2 separate regions of the Homo sapiens genome follow, and region 1 is linked to region 2. A link means that fine-mapping ties the variant in region 2 to the expression of a gene that starts in the linked region. Tissue or cell type: whole blood. Region 2 holds a variant in brackets; the other region holds the start of a gene. All regions are shown on one strand. Distances are between the middles of the regions. Region 1 holds the start of MAGI2-AS3 (MAGI2 antisense RNA 3). Region 2 has its middle 41 kb from the start of MAGI2.

Region 1 (4,393 bases), 41 kb after region 2:
TTAACCGTATTGTTTGCCTCCTACATCGCCTTCATCTCAGACATTAAGAATCCTACCTATTCAATGCTTTTCATCCTCCGCTTTAAAGAGATAAGTGGGTGCACAACTTTTTTTTTGCCTGAAACATATCATCTAAAAGTTAAGCAAATGAAATTCATTTACCAGTTACAGGAATCTTTTTCTTAAATCACTGTTAATGTCTCACAGGAAATTAGCTCTTCAGTGGAAATCAGCAGCCTCCCTGCATCCTTTTGCCCCTGTCCTCCCCTCTCTTGGATGCAAACCTGGCGAAAAGAAGGGAACACTGCTTGGGGTCAGCGAGCTGAGTTCCAGCTCCGAATGTACCATTTTCACCCTCGGGAGTCTTCTCCCCTTTCTCTGTGAGCAAAGGAGTGTTGGGCCAGACCGTCTTAAGGATTCTTCCCCAGGTACAAGCCGGACTCTGGCGGCTTTCCTGGGCAAGGGAGTGTCTCCGCCTTGTCTCTGCCGCAGGTCCCTGGTTAAATTGTCAATTTCTCTGCGGAGGCTGCTCACTGCATCCGCTCCCTCCACCCCTAGCCCTGTAGACCCCTTCTCTTTCCCCTACTTGGGAAAAGTGAAGCCCCTTATCCTTGGATAGCCTTTCACCAGACAACCGCAGCCGTCCGCTAAATTCCCCTACTGGCGGGACGCGCGGGCGGGGGCCTGCCCCGGGGAATGCGAGGCTGCTTCCCTTCTGCGTAATCAGGGTACGCAGCCTCCAGTTCTCTAACTTTCTCCTTCTCTAAGAGGGAATTTCGAGAACTTTAAGACAAATAAGTGACTATATAGATGAAGACATGAAACCTCTCTACACAGTGAACTCCCCCACGCTACAAGGCTCCCAGGGATCCCAGGCCTTCTCCCGCAATGCCCCGCCGGGTCCCCCGCCCCAACTCCTTCTCACGGCAGGATCCCGCGCCAGGACGCTCGCAGAGCCCGAGATGTGGCACCAGGCGCGCCACAAGTCCAGGTCCCGCTATTTCTGCTCCATCGGAGCCCAGGTCGGAGGGAGTCAGCGCGTCCTCCTCGCACAGGAGCCTGGCGCGCGGCTCGGTCGCACAGAGGCTGAAGAAAGGTCCGCACTGGGCTCGAGGCCCTTCCTGCCGGCCTCCCCACGCCGGGCCTAGGCTCCCCTCCTTCCCGGCTCCCGCCTCCTCCCGTAGGCTGCCAGGCGGACCCAGCCTGCCTCTCTCTCTGCCTTCACTACCGGGTCAAGCTGCGGAGGGAGGGAGGGAGGCAGCGGCGAAGCCCTCCGTGGCTCCCCACCCGGCGCGCGCGCCCCTCCTCCCCTGCCTCCTCCCGTCTGCCAGTACAGTAGAACTAGTACACACACACACACACACACACACGCACACGCACCCTGCCACTGCAGCTGCCATGGATATCAGCTAACAACACACACCCAGGCGCGCGCGCGCGTTCCCACTCGCACCACGCAGGAGTGGCCCCCGGCATCCCTACCCTCCTTCCCCACCCCCACCACACCCGCTCACCAGCTCGGCTACTGCTCGCTCCGGCTGCCGCCGCCGCCGCCGCCGACGCCACCACCACTGCTTCCTCTGCTGCGGGGCCACAGCCTTGAGTGTCATTCAAGGGACAGCACAACCTCATCCAAGCTCTCCTACCTCTGCCCAGCCGTCCCTCTCATCCTCCCCATTCCTCGTCCACACTCCATCCAAAGAAGAGGGAAAGCACCGAATAGAGGGGGGCGAAGGCAAAGTCTGCTGTTCTTCCCCCTGGGCCCCCTTGCTCCTCCATCCTCATTCTCTCACCACCAGCCCCCCTAACCCCAAGGAGCCCAGGAACTGAGGCGACTCGCCCCACTGCCATGTCCAAAAGCTTGAAAAAGAAAAGCCACTGGACTAGCAAAGTCCATGAGAGTGTCATTGGCAGGAACCCGGAGGGCCAGCTGGGCTTTGAACTGAAGGGGGGCGCCGAGAATGGACAGTTCCCCTACCTGGGGGAGGTGAAGCCCGGCAAGGTGGCCTATGAGAGCGGCAGCAAATTGGTGTCGGAGGAGCTGCTGCTGGAGGTGAACGAGACCCCCGTGGCGGGGCTCACCATCAGGGACGTGCTGGCCGTGATCAAACACTGCAAGGACCCCCTCCGGCTCAAGTGTGTCAAGCAAGGTGAGAGCAGCGGCTTGCTCAGTGTTTTGCCGGGCGGTGGGACCGCTCGGGGCGCAGGGCAATGAAAGGGTGGCCGCGCATGTTGAAGGGGGTGTGTTGCGCGATGATGGGGTGGGGGCCAGAGAGCACCCGCAGTGCAAGTGAGTTTCGCCGGGGATTCGACTTGGGGGCTAAAGGGAGGGGAGGGGCAGGTTGTGGTGTGGCGTGCAACTTTGTTTGCTCAGTTAGACCCTCCCCTTTGGAAGGTGCTCGGCCTGGTCTGACCTCCTCAGAGCTGCTGGGGCAAATTGAATGTGCGTCAGTGGCATCACCCGAAGCGGATGAAGAGCTTTTGGGGAAGGGAGGAAGGAAGAAAAGAAAGAAAGAATGGGAGGAAGGGAGGGAAAGAAGGAAGGAGCAACTTCAGGGTGCAGCGGCATCACCAGCGGGTCTGGGAAGAGAAGGTGGTGGGGTGAGCGGAGAACTGCGTCCAGCGTTTCTGGGGCTGGGCTGGGGGCGCCTGGGTCCCCAGCTGTCCCTTAGGGATCCGTGAGCCACCGCTGGCGAAGAAAAGAAGGGACAAATTGCTTTGGGCGCTTTGACGGGTCTTCTGTAACTTTTCCCCTTCTTCACTCCGTGTCCCCCTCCCCCGCTCACGGTCGTGTCATGTGGGCATCGCGCGTCACGTGCGTACTGACTAACCCCTGCGCTCACCCCTAGCCAGCCCGGGGGAGGAGGCTCCGGAAGAAGGCGCGGTGCTAGGAGCGCAGTCTAGTGCTGGGCGGGGGTCGGAGGAGATGAATGGTTGTCGGAGGAGATGAATGGTTGTCCGCATGGACTTTACTCAGGGGTTGCCCTCATTGAGTGGAAGTCCTCTGTGGTTGGGCTCTCCTCTGGCTCCGATTTGGGGGGCGTGTTTTGGGGGAGGAGCTGGATGAAACCCTGGCCGGTTCCAGCCCAGGCTCCCTCAGCTCCAACCTGACTTAAATGAACCTCAATTGGAGGCTGTGATGTGGATTTGGGGAGATTGGAATCATCCAGAACTCCCTGTCTTTGCTCGAAAGAAAATTATGGTGCAGAAGGAGAGAAGAGTGAGATAAAAGTTTGAATAGAGGACAACTTTAAGTAGAATAAAGTAGTAGCTTTTTTCTTTTCTGTTTTCTTTTTTAGCTCACTGCACAATTCGTGTGCGGTATGTATGGATATTTGCGTCACAGGCATATTAGCATAAGGGTTTGTTGTTGTCGTCGATGTACACTGTTTGTCCTGACTCAAAGGTGGAATTGAGCATGTCATTACCTGCATTTTGCCGCTTAATCATGATCAACTACTAAGAAATGCTTTTACGGAGATGTACCGCACTGTTAAATTATTCTCTAAAAAACTTGTTTTAAAATAAACAAGATAAAAAGAAGTACTGGGCAAGGTTTCTTAAATGTAAATTGCCATACAAGAAAATGTTTTCCTTGGGTATTCTTGAGTATTAAGAGGTAATAAATTGAGATAGGTTATTATAAGTCAACATAGCTCCATACTATTTAACACTGAAGGGATATGAGTTTGGTAGGAAGGAAAATAGAGTAACTTGATATTTTTGAAGATAAGATACCTAAGGTTCAAATACAGAGATTCATGTTAACATGTTCGATGTCAAAATACCACCTTATAGGAATAGACATAAATGGAAAGATCTTTGGGTACGAAAAGTCTACTACACAACTAATGACCATGGTTTTGTTGGCCAAATGCTTGATATTTGTCATGGAACGTGGCTGCAAAAGTTAAGCGTTGTTAAATTGGACTTAATAGAGTCCCACAAACGGATGCCCTATTATAGTTTGCAATGATCATCACATCTTAAATGTTGTGTTCAATTCTGAGCACTCCTTGTTGAGGCGGACGTTGGCAAACTGTCACGCTAGCAAAGAGTAAGTTCAAAAGAGAAATAAAGGAAGATTATTGTGTATTATAGATGTATTCTATGAAATGCCGTGGAAAGACTTAACGTGGAGAAGTGAAAGAATGAAAGCTATCATTAAATAGCGAAAAGCTATCAGGTAAGAAAAGGAATTCTGACTATCCTGTGATAGCCCACAGGACAAAATGGTGATAAATCTATGAGAAATTTGAAAGGATGAAGCAGCTTTACTTTCATTAAATCATGAGCTTTCTAACAGAGTTTTCCAAAAATTTGTGAGCACCCTGTTGGCTGAAGTTCCCATCATTGTGGGTATCCATGAAGAGGCTGAAATGACCATATGCCA
Region 2 (4,393 bases):
CTATAAAACCAAAACACTGATGAAGTGCACAACTTTCTGGAGAAAAATTAAATGGCCAAAAGTTATCTGAGAAAGAATAATAGATCTAGTTAATGAAAAAATGCTTATCACTAATCACCAGGAAAATGCAAATTAAAACCATGATGAGATATCACCTCTCACCTGTTAAAGTGGGTATTATCAAAAAGATAAAAGATAAATTCTGGTGAGGATGTAGAGAAAAGGGGACTCTCACACACTGTTGGTAGGAATGCAAATTAGTACAGCCATTATAGAAAACAGTATGGATGTTCCTCAAAAAATTAAAAATAGAATTACTCTATGATCTAGCAATTTAACTACGGCATATATCAAAGGATATGAAATCAGTATGTCAAAGAGATATCTGCACTCACATGTTCATTGCAGCATTGTTCACAATAGCCACGATATGGAGTCAGTCTGTGTCTATCAACAGATGAATGAGTCAAAAAATGTAGTGTACATATACACAATGGAATGTTACTCAGCCACAAACAGAATGAAATCCTGTTATTTGTGATAACATGGATGAAACTGAAAGACATTATGGTAAGTGAAATAAGCCAGGCACAGAAAGACAAATACTGCTTACATACATGTGGAATGTAAAAAAAGTTGGACTCATAGAAACAGAGAGTAAAATGGTGGTATTCAAAGGCTGGAGGGTGGAGAGGTTTGGGAAATGTTGGTCAAAGGACACAAAGTTTTACTTAGGAGGAATAAGTTCAAGAGATGTATTGTACTTCATAATGACTGTAGTTAATAGCAATATATGGCATGCTGGAACATTGTTAAGAGAGTACAATTTTTGTTCTCACCACAGAAAAATGTTAAGTATGTGAGGTAATCCACATGTTAAATGGTTTGGTTTAGTCATTCCACAACGTATATACGTATATATCAAAACATCATGTTTTACACCATAAATCAAGGGTTTCCAATCTTTTGGCGTCCCTGCGCCACACTGGAAGAATTGTCTTGGGCTACACATAAAACACACTAACACTAACCACTAATGATAGCTGTTGAGCTTAAAAAAGTTACCAAAAAATGTCAGGTTTTAAGAAATGTAGGAATTTGTTTTGGGCCACATTCAAAGCTGTCCTGGGCCGCATGCAGCTCATGGGCCATGAATTGGACAAGTATGCTCTAAATATATACAATTTTTTGTTGATTAAAAAAAAAGAAGAAGAATAGAGCTAGATAGACAAATGATTATGAACCAAATTGGAAAAAAATAGGTTTTCTTCCTAGAAAGTTGTAATTTGTAGAACAGTTTTTCTGGAATGTCCATTTAAGCTTCCATGGAACCACAATTTTTATTCTATAAAAATTCTTTCAAAGTGTATAAACATGTGACCTTACCAATTAATTAACTCATGAGTGTAGATGATATTAAGGTTCTGTAGATCAAAGGACAATTCCTTCTCTAGCCTGTATTTAGGGGAATAATAAGAACAAATGTTGATAAAATACTTATGTTCTGAATTCTTTACATATATTCATTCATATAATCCTCAAAACATTCTCCAATGTATATACTATTATTATCCCCATTTTACTGATGACAAAACTGAGATACAAAGAAATAAGTAATATGCCCAACTTCACGTATCTAAGAACTGACTGAGGGTGAGATGAGAACGTGGCCATGTAGCCCTAAAGGCTACATTCGTAAAACATTTGTATACTAAGTCCCTATCCAGAACCTATTCCAATTGTAACATACATATATAGTACAAAAGGGAATGCTTAATTGCACAAATATCTGTGTATGCAAATGGTATGCTGCTTACCAAAGGTTTTTTTTTTTTAACAGTTTTTAGTGATATAGGGAAATGATCATGAACAGAAAAAACAACATGAGAAGATATGTTAAGATTAGCTTTTTTTGTGCATTTGGATTCAGTAAAACAGTAAAAGATTAAAGGATTAATTTGATTAAACATTTCAAATGGACTAAAGAACATATATTCATATAAGAAACTAAGGTTAAAAAGTAGAGCGATTTTCATAAGTAACCTGTGTGAAAATTTTATAAATAAAAGCTTTCCTCATAATCATCCTGCTTTTCCTTAATATAAAAAAGAAGCATGAATAAATATTGTTGTAATTCCTTTACTTAGTAATAATCCCTGAAGTGACGGTAATTTCTATTGAAATATAGCATGGTATCTCTTACCTCCCTTATCCCCATTCTCACTCTCTCCCACAAAGGCTTGCAGTAGTCTGTGGACACAAACTATTCTTAGTGCTTATTATTGTAAATATTGTCGTATGTCCTAAACCAACATTAAAGTAATAAATTTGACACAGAACCATATGAAGCAAATGCTAAGATTAGCAAAGTAATGTAGTTAGTGCATTCCTGTTGGAACTCTATGACAAAGCAGAATGTTATCAGTTAAAAATGACACCCCAACCACAAATGCTAGATATCTTCACACTTATGTGTTGTGAAAAAAAAA[AT/T]TCTCTTTCCTGTAAAGGCTTATAGATAATTCATGCTTTTTAACACACTAAATTTTAAAGGGAATAAAAGGCAGATTACGTGTGCGCTACTATGGAATTCCAAGATGTTAACGAAGCACTCAAAAAGGGAACCTGTGCAAAAAATTAAAAAATATTATTTTTCAGTTTTATCTTCCTTTGAGTACCCCATTCACTGTTTCCTCCATTTCTCCTTCCCCTTCTGTCTTATTTAGGCTGCTATAACACAATACCATAGGCTGAATGGCTTAAACAACATTTATTTCTCACAGTTCTCCAGGTAAAAAGTCCAAGATCAAAGTGCCAGCAGATTTACTGTTTGAGGAGGGCTCTCTTCCTGATCTGCAGAAGGCCATCTTCTCCTTGTATTCTGATATAGCAGAGAGAGAGGGAGAGAGAGGGAGAAAGAGAGAGAGAGAGAGGAGAGAGAGAGAGAGGAGAGAGAGAGAAGAGGGGATGGAGAGAGAGAGAAGGGGGGGGGATGAAGGAAGAACTCTCATGTATCCTCTTATAAGAGAACAAATCACATCATGACTGCTCCACCCTCATGATCTAAGGCCCTATCTCCAAAAATCATTTGAACCCAAAAATTTTGTGAGGACACAAACATATAGTCTATGCCTTATCTTTGGAACAAAATGCCTTCTTGTTACCTATTGGCTGCCCAGAGCCAACTCCTTTTTTATAAGTAGAAAATGTAGTATTTGACTTCTTTTAGTACTATTTTGTACCCATATCTGAACATTGTGTCATGTATCCCGTCTTCTAGATACAGCTTTTACAAGTAATGTAAAGGGTGTAAAGTAACTCCAGTAGGGTATAGGCTACTAAATGAGGCATTTCCCTCCTTCTCCCACCTCCAGTCCTGTTTATGATCCAGACTGCTTCTATCTATAAAGCTGCTAACCCTTGAGCCTTGAAAGAAAAAGCTAAACACCAGCTGCCAGTCTTTTGGTTGTACAAAAAGAAGTCCTGGACAATATGAACGCTTTTTCTGGATTGGCTGCATCTATGCTTTGTCCCTGAAGTCAGGAAGTACCTTACCGGTAAGGGACTGCGTTTTGAAGTTCTTTTGATATTAATCAATGCCCCTGGCCACCCAGAACCCCATGAATTCAACACCTAAAACATTAAAGTGGTCTACTTGCACCCAAACACAATGTCTCTAACGCTGCCTTTAGATTAGGGAGCATAGGGGCCTTTAAGGCTCATTACACACAGTACCCCATGGAAAAGATTGTCAAGAAACTCTGATGGAGAGAGTATTATGAATGTCTGGAAGGACTACACCATTGAAGAGGCATTTGTTGTTACAGGAAAATCCATGAAAGCCATTAAGGCCAAAGCAATACATTCTTGCTAGAGAAAACTGTTCAGTTGTTGTGCCTGACTTCACAGGATTTACAAGAGAGCCAATCAAGAAAATCACAAAAGAGATTGTGGATATGTCCATCACCCAAAATAAAAGGTGAGGGGAGAAGGTTTTCAAGATAAAGATTTCAGAAAATTTTAAGAGCTGATAGACACTGTGTTAGTCTGTTCTGGCATTGCTATAAAGAACTACCTGCGACTGGGTAATTTAAAAAGAAAAGAGTTTTAATTGACTTACAGTTTTGCAGGCTGTACAGGAAGCATGGCTTGGAGGCCTCAGGAAACTTATAATCATGGCAGAAAGTGAAGGGGAAGTAGGTACCTCTAACATGACCAGAGAAGGAGGAAGAGAGCAGGGGGAGATGCTACACTTTTAAACAACCAGATCTTATGAGAACTCATTCACTATCACCAGAGCAGCAAGGGAGAAGTCCACCTCCATGATCCATTCACCTTTCACCAGGCCCCTTCTACAACATTAAGGATTACAATTCAACATGAGATTTGGGTAGGG

Evidence for each region.
Region 1: MAGI2-AS3 starts here. The variant in region 2 is fine-mapped to the expression of MAGI2-AS3 in whole blood (INTERVAL, PIP above 0.99).

What each region holds. Positions count from the first base shown.
Region 1 is chr7:79,450,777-79,455,169 of GRCh38, reverse strand. It overlaps MAGI2-AS3 (MAGI2 antisense RNA 3), which reads right to left and starts at 2,213. Exons shown (of 4, transcript NR_038346.1): 1 at 1,979-2,213; 2 at 1,515-1,583. It overlaps MAGI2 (membrane associated guanylate kinase, WW and PDZ domain containing 2), which reads left to right and starts at 1,503. Exons shown (of 22, transcript NM_012301.4): 1 at 1,503-2,150. The coding sequence starts at 1,850. RefSeq lists an enhancer at 2,763-3,057.
Region 2 is chr7:79,492,199-79,496,591 of GRCh38, reverse strand. No RefSeq gene overlaps it. Among named protein-coding and RNA genes, the nearest start is that of MAGI2, 41 kb to the right of the region's middle. The variant AT/T (reference allele first, on the strand shown) is at 2,490.